2 linked regions of the Homo sapiens genome follow. The protein of the gene in region 2 interacts with the protein of the main gene of each other region in a pairwise test. Each region holds a gene or a part of one and is shown on either strand. Other genes may lie near its edges.

The links. Proteins that work in one complex are often made in the same cells at the same time.
Region 1: the proteins of CEP76 (region 2) and ZNF85 interact in binary tests that used the Homo sapiens proteins (3 or more experiments, as listed by UniProt).

The regions. Positions count from the first base shown.
Region 1 is NC_000019.10:20,921,907-20,926,050, reverse strand, and holds the start of ZNF85 (zinc finger protein 85), read right to left. Parts: upstream 2,801-4,144; 5' UTR 2,651-2,800; coding exon 2,648-2,650; exon of another isoform or gene 2,635-2,647; intron 1-2,634. UniProt on the Homo sapiens protein: May be a transcriptional repressor.
Region 2 is NC_000018.10:12,692,724-12,696,223, reverse strand, and holds part of CEP76 (centrosomal protein of 76 kDa), read left to right. Parts: intron 1-872; coding exon 873-970; intron 971-3,500. UniProt on the Homo sapiens protein: Centrosomal protein involved in regulation of centriole duplication. Required to limit centriole duplication to once per cell cycle by preventing centriole reduplication.

The DNA.
Region 1 (4,144 bases), on a different chromosome or scaffold from region 2:
TCACCCAGCCATAAGCACACCTGAGAAAATTTTTAAACTCACTCTGACAAAGGAACAAGTAAATGAGAATTCTTAACAAATGGAATATATGATTAGATTTTAATTTTTTTCTAAAACCCACTTCTTTTACACCCTGTGCAAATATTTTTGTGCCTTTTAAACTTTACTAATCAAATGCAATTTACAATTAAAAGAAGCTGAAGTCAAAATAAGTGAACAAATCTTTTCAAGGTGACAAACCCACAGAGGGACAGTGCTGATTAGAAAAGAGATGTGTCTGACCTATGTGTCAAGTCAGGCCGTTCAATCACTTGAAAGATTCTCCCACCCGCTCCTGCTCACTAAAGTTCTCAATGACCAACCTCTCAAGAGACACTACACTATGCCCCAGTGACTGCCCCAAGTGCATTTTACTTTGCAAGTTCTTGCACCATCTCACTGGGGTGACCTTTTTTTTGTCTTTTGGGATACTATTTTTTCTTTCACAAATCTTAGAGAATCCAGGGGGTAAAAATTATTTCTGCATTTTTCTCTCAATGTGTCTCCAAGAAATAGAAGCTGGGTTGGGTGAAGTCAATCTTTTTTTTTTTTTTTTGTATACAGTCTCGCTCTTTCACCCAGGCTAGAGTGCAGTGGCATGACCTTGGCTCACTGCAACCTCCACCTCCCGGGTTCAAGTAATTCTTCTGCCTCAGCCTCCCTAGTAGCTGGGATTACAGGTGTGTGCCACCAGGCCTGGCTAATTTTTGTATTTTTAGTAGAGATGGGGTTTCACCATATTGGCCATGCTGGTCTCAAATTCCTGACCTCGCGATCCGCCCGCCTCGGCCTCACAAAGTGCTGGGATTACAGGTGTGAGCCACCGCGCCCAGCTGGGTGAAGTCAATTTTAATGTCTCAAGGAGTTAGCTTTTCAAAGGAAGAGTACACCAGGAGACTGCACTCAGACCCTGGGTATCTACCTGCTCCCTTGATAGGATACACTTCATACCTCAGGTTGTCCTATGAGAGAAAATGACCCAGGAGCTGATATTCACTAGACACTCTAGCCAACATAGCCACAATGGTGGGCATCCTGGTTTATCCCCATACAGTACTGAAAACCCAGGACCAGGAAAAAACTGAAGAGTGGCTGATGACCCATCACACCATAAAGTCTCCAAACGGAAACCTTGACCCACCAATATTCTGATAAGAACTCTGTGCCTAGGGAAGATAAAAGGAAAAGAGACACAGAGATTTTTTTACAATATGGTGTCAGGGATTATTATTCACTTTCTTCTCATGGGAAATATTTACAAACAGAAGACAATTTTTTAAATAGTGCCATCCAATGTTTTGTGGAAGAATTATTAATTGAAATATAAAATGTACAATAAAGGACAAATAATTGATAATGTGTATCAGAGAGGGGAAGGTGGCATTTGGGAATGTCAATGACACTGGAAATTTAGTATTTTACTGTAAATCAGAGTTAATCTGGAAGAACAGGGAGTAAGAAGTAGACTTGAGACCCTGCTTGAGACATATGTGAAAAATGCAGGGGAAAAGAAGTCCCCTGTGGACTGTGAAAATGATTCAGTGGCAGGCAATTAGACTGAGGTGGCTCTAGTCCCTGGGGTCCTCCTTTTTAAAAAAATCTAACTAAAATTTCATTTTTTAGTAAATTACCACATCGGGGAAAACAAAATTCAGGCTTAACCAACTATAAACTGCCAATTAAATTCTGATCACATAACCAGAAAATTGCCAACACGATCGTACAAATTAAGAGACTATATAACTGTACCTAACCAATTACTAATTTGATTTTTTTATCATGCACCTTATAAAAGTCTTTTATTCAAGCTCCTCCCATGGACCACAAACTACAAACCATAGCTGAGTGCTCTACAATACTTGAACCACTTTTTAAGTTCTTTAATATTTTTGCGGTGACTCCTATACATCTTTTTTTTTTTTTTTTGAGACGGAGTTTCACTCTTATTGCCCAGGCTGGAGTGCAGTGGCGCGATGTAGGCTCACTGCAACCTCCGCCTCCCGGGTTCAAGCGATTCTCCTGCCTCAAACTCCTGAGTAGCTGGGATTGCAGGCGCGCGCCACGACGCCCGGCTAATTTTTGTATTTTTAAAAATTGAGACGGGGTTTCACCATGTTGGCCAGGATGGTCTTGAACTCCTGACCTCAGATGATCCGCCCGCCTCGGCTTCCCAAAGTGCTGAAATTACAGGCGTGAGCCACCACGCCCGTCCCCCCATACATTTTTAACAGAAAAAAAGAGGAACTGGGAACCCCACAGCCCAAAGCTCTTTCATGAACCCGCACCCCGAGTCAGGATTCTCCCCTGACAACCCTCCCGTGGTCCCTGCTCAATCTGGGAGAGACGCGGTGCTGCGAATGCAGAGCTGCCCAGAGAGGGCTCCAGTCCAGGGCACAGTCACTGCGCAGGGAAGAGACAGGACGCCCGGGCCGGCTGTCAGCGCAGCCGCCATCTTATGGCTGGAGGAACTGGGGCCGAGCTGGGCAAAAAGAACTGGAGCGCAGATTGTGGAGCTGACTACAGGGAGGCCTGAGTCCCGCCACAGCCGCTTCCCACCGGTTTCAACCAACCCCTTTCCCCCTCGGGATGGCGGACCTGGCACTCTCACCATTTCTAGGCTTCCAGGGGGTCCCGGCGTCTTAGCTGTGGATCTCCCAATACCTGCAGGCCACAGGGCCACAGAGGCTGGGCGTCCACGAGCAGAAAACACAAAGCAGGGAAAACAAGACCTAGAGCTCAGGCTGCAGCGAGAGACAAAGGCCCCGCCACATCCCGGAAGCCGCCCTATCCGCACCAGCTGCGTTCCTGATTGGACGGTTCCCAGCCCAGCGTCTCTGATTGGATGATATTTAAGGCACCTTCTTTTCAGGCCCTGAGTGACAGAAGATGTGATCAGATGCTGGGCTGAAAGAAGAGCGAGTGACAGCCTAGGCTGCAGCCTTTTCAGACAGGGCTTCCTTCCTGAGCTGAGCCAGGCTCACACCAGAGAGTATTTGCCCTTACCTTGTGTATCAATTTATATGCATTCAAAAATAATATATTATATGGCTATTCACAAATGAACAAAGTATAACAACAATTGTTCTAAAATTTTAGATTTTATGACCTTCCTGTATTCTGGTCCTTTGAACAGGCAATCCTCTGAAATAAAATGTGAGTCACAGGTGAATTTTAAATTTTCTAGTAGCCAAACTTTAAAAAGAAAGAAGAAACAAGTGGAATTGATTGTAGCAATTTATTTAACCCAATATATTCAAAATATTTTCATTTTAATATGTGAGCAATATGTAATTATTAATGAAATATAAATACATTTGAAACAAAATCTTTGAAACTAATTCTGTATTTTACCTTTCTAGCACATCGCAGTTCAGACCAGCCACATTCCAGGCACCCAGGAGCCACACATGGCCAATAGCTGCCACATTGAAGTACAGCTGTGATGTCAGTGGGGGTGGAGGGCCTGAACACCCCTTTTCTGCCACAGGTGAGGGGACAGCCTCTATTTATCAACGTCTCTTTTCAGTTCCGAGGGTGAAACAAATAGTGGCTATAGAAAAAGCTGATGGCAGCAGGAATAAATCACAGGTAAACCACTGCTTACCACCTGTTGCCCATCTTTCTTTCAGAGATCAGACAGTGAGCAAAGGATGATGGGCCACAGGAGAAAAAAAACTATGTCTTCAGATCTGTTCACAGTCTTGACCTTTAATGTTTACATAGGAAGAAAATAGATTAAAGGCAAACTTATTTTGCTATTTGACCTCGACTCTAATGTTCAGGCTGTGGTTACCTGTTTTCTTCTGTGGTGTGGGAAACTGAGTGAATATAAGCACAATCACATGCATACATGTCCACATGTATTTCGGCATTTCTTTTTTTTGAGATGGAGTTTCACTCTTGTTGCCCAGGCTAAAGCGCAATGGTGTGGTCTTGGCTCACTGCAACCTCTGCCTCCTGGGTTCAAGCAATTCTCCTACCTCAGCCTCCCGAGTAGCTGGGATTACAGGCATGCACTACCACGCCCGGCTAATTTTTTGTACTTTTAGTAGAGACGGGATTTCTCCATGTTGGTCAGGCTGGTCTTGAACTCCTGACCTTAGGT
Region 2 (3,500 bases):
AGTAATTTAGATTTTAATAAGTCATACCAAGAATGTATTTTTCTTTAAATAAAAATTATAGAAAAAGTGTCCTTTATGTAAGAAATTTATTTTCAAAAACAATACCCAATTTGTCTTCAAAAATAGGCCTAACATGATAATCGTAGCAGTGACCTGGAAACAAGCAGATTCTGATTCACTGAAGAAACATTAAATCGTTTTGATGTGAAGTATATTTGTTTTCTAGTTCTTTAAATCCAGGCATGGATTGAAAATTTCTACTCAGCCTGTAATTGGATAATGGGGAGTGACAAATGGGAGTTACTATAAGTGACAATATAAATGCTTTCTAATTTTTAGTGTGTGTGTGTGTGTGTGTGTGTGTGTGTGTGGAGAAGGAATGAGGTGTTAACAGTTGCTTTGACTTTGAATTTAATGTAAGTCTGGTTGATATTATACATTTAATTAAGACAAAAATTAAGAGTCTCAAATCCTTTAAGTCAGAAAAGTTTCTTAAAACCTGTTAGAAAAGCCAGGTGTAGTGGCTCATGCCTGTAATCCCACCAAGCACTTTGGAAGGCTGAGGCAGGAATATCACTTGAGCCCTGGAGTTTAAGACCAACCTGAATAACATAGGGAGACCCCATCTCTACTTAAAGAAGAAAAAGAGTGTCAGAAAGCTAAGAAAATAATCTCCTTATAATTAAACACCTTTGTTTAAAAAAATTGATTTGGTTCATTTTAATATGAATATTAAAGGTAATGTTGAATGTTATCTTTATTCCATGTAAGTGATAAAACACCCAAGTGCCTAAATTATTTTGGTTAGACTTTGGTTGACTAAATATATATAGTATTGAAATCTCTGAAGTTCAAAATATTTATGTTTATAGGCACAGAATCAAAAGTTTCTGTGGGAATTTTAAATATAAAACTTGAAATGTATCCACCACTCAATCAAACGTTATCTCAAGAAGTAGTGAACACACAGGTAAATACTTATGAGTTTCTCTTTTTTTGTGTGTTTGTTTTCATAGTAGTATATTTACCTGTTGATCCTAGAAAGCACTCTATTTTTAGAAAATTACCATTTATTACTTTCTAGATTAGCACTCAAAGGTTCACAAAAAGGATGAGGAAGAAAATAAAGACAAGATTGTTTTCCTAGCAGAATCTGTAGTCTAGTTTAGGAAATACGATGAACATTTATTGAGACAGCATAAGAATTACAGGATAGGCCGGTGGCTCACGCCTGTAGTCCCAGCACTTTGGGAGGCCGAGGCGGGCGGATCACAAGGTCAGGAGATCGTGACCATCCTGGCTAACACGGTGAAACCCCGCCTCTACTAAAAATACAAAAAAAAAAAATAGCCGGGCGTGGTGGCAGGCACCTGTAGTACCAGCTACCCGGGAGGCTGAGGCAGGAGAATGGCGTGAACCGGTAAGAGGAGCTTGCAGTGAGCCCAGATCGCACCAGTGCACTCCAGCCTGGGCAACAGAGCAAGACTCCATCTCAAAAAAAGAAAAAAAAAAAAAGAATTACAGGATAAAGCTGAAGAAGATCAAAGAGTAAAGTGCAACCTCAGTGGGATGGGATTTTAACGTTCTTTCGCAGGCGTTTATTGAAAGCTTGCTGCTTATGTCTTTTCTGCTCTGTTCTCTCAGGGTAGAAGTGCTTGCCACTTTTAGAGTGTGTTTGGAGAGGCTTTTTTCCCTAATTCCACTGTCAGGTCTCTGATGAATTACTTTCTTCCTGGGTCTTAAAAGATCGGCAGATTTTTTCATTCCTTCACATTGGATTTGCCATCCATGTTTAGTTCTTGCCAGTCTTTAGTTTGGAGGTTCTCATTATCTGCTGACTTGCCGGGATGGCACTTGTGGAATGGTTCTCCTTGATTACATACACCACCCTTTACTCCACCCTGCCTGTCATATTGTTCCTTTTACAGACCTGTGGTTAGACGCTAGTGCTTCTCCCTCAGGCAAACAATGTCCTGCCCTGTTTTCTTTAAACTTTTTTTCCTTCCTTTTGTAAACTCTCATCTCCCTCTAATCTCTAGCTTCTGACATGTGTCATGGGTGGTATATATACCTGAAACCACATAGTGAGAACCAACTTTGATGTTACTCAAATAAATACCCAGCCCTGTGGGAGGCTAAGGTGGGTGGATCACTTTTGAGTCCAGCAGTTTAGGACCAGCTTGGGCAACATAGTGAGACCCTGTCTCTACAAAAATTTTAAAAAATTAGTCAAGCATGGTGGTACATACTTGTAGTCCCAGCTGCTTGGGAAGCTGAAATGGGAGGATTGCTTGACCCAGGAATTTGAGGTTACAGTGAGCTGTGATTGTACCACTGCACACTAGCCTGGGTTACAGACTAAGACCCTGTCTCTTAAATAAATGGTGTATACACACATATACATTATGTGTATACGTGAGGGGTTTTTTTGTTTGTTTTTTTCAGACAGAGTCTCGCTCTGTCGCCAGGTTGGAGTGCAGTGGCGCAATCTTGGCTCACTGCAACGTCTGCCTGCCGAGTTCAAGCAATTCTCCTGCCTCAGTCTCCTGAGTAGCTGGGACTACAGGTGGGTGCCACCACGCCCAGCTAATTTTTGTATTTTTAATAGAGACAGGGTTTCACCATGTTGGCCAGGATGGTCTCGATCTCTTGACCTCGTGATCTGCCTGCCTCGGCCTCCCAAAGTGGTATACATGAGTTTTAATCATGTTATTCATATATTTATGTGACATATAAAGTAAATGTTTGGGCTCTACTTTTTTGGGGTAGTAGCTTGTTTTTTTTAATTAAATTTTATTTTTTTAGAGACAGCATCTCACTCTCTCAGGCTTGAGTGCAGTGGTGTGATTATAGCTCACTGAAACCTCAGACTCCCAGCCTCAAGCAATCCACCTGCCTCAGCCTCCCAAAACATTGGGATTGCAGACATGGACCATTGTGCCCCACCAGGTTCTCCTTTTTAAACTTAACATTATTTTATATGTATTTTCTTATATTTCCACTGTCATATTTATAATTTCTAGTGACTAAAACATAAGTTTATTCTATTATCTGATAAATAAATTGCTTCTAATTTTCTCTTTAAAATTGCACTATTAAAACTTTTAGCCAGGCTAATTAATCTGTAATCCCAGCACTTTGGGAGGCCAAGGTAAGAGGATCACTTCAGGCCAGGAGTTCAAGACCAGCCTGGGCAACATAGGTAGACTTCATCTCTACAAAAATTTTTAAAAATTAACTGCACATGGTGGTGCATTCCTGTAGTCCCAGCTACTGGGGAGGCTGAGGTGGGAGGATCGCTTAAGCCCAGGAATTCGAGGCTACAGTGAGCCATGATCATGCAGTAGCACTCCAGACTGGGTGACAGAGCAAGACCCTGTCTCTTAAAAGAAATTAAAGTCAGAAATATGTATGGATCCTAAATAGATGTCAAAATGTGCTAGACACTGTTCTAGACACTGGAGATGTAGCTGTGTATAGGGCAGCAGACAGCTAGACAG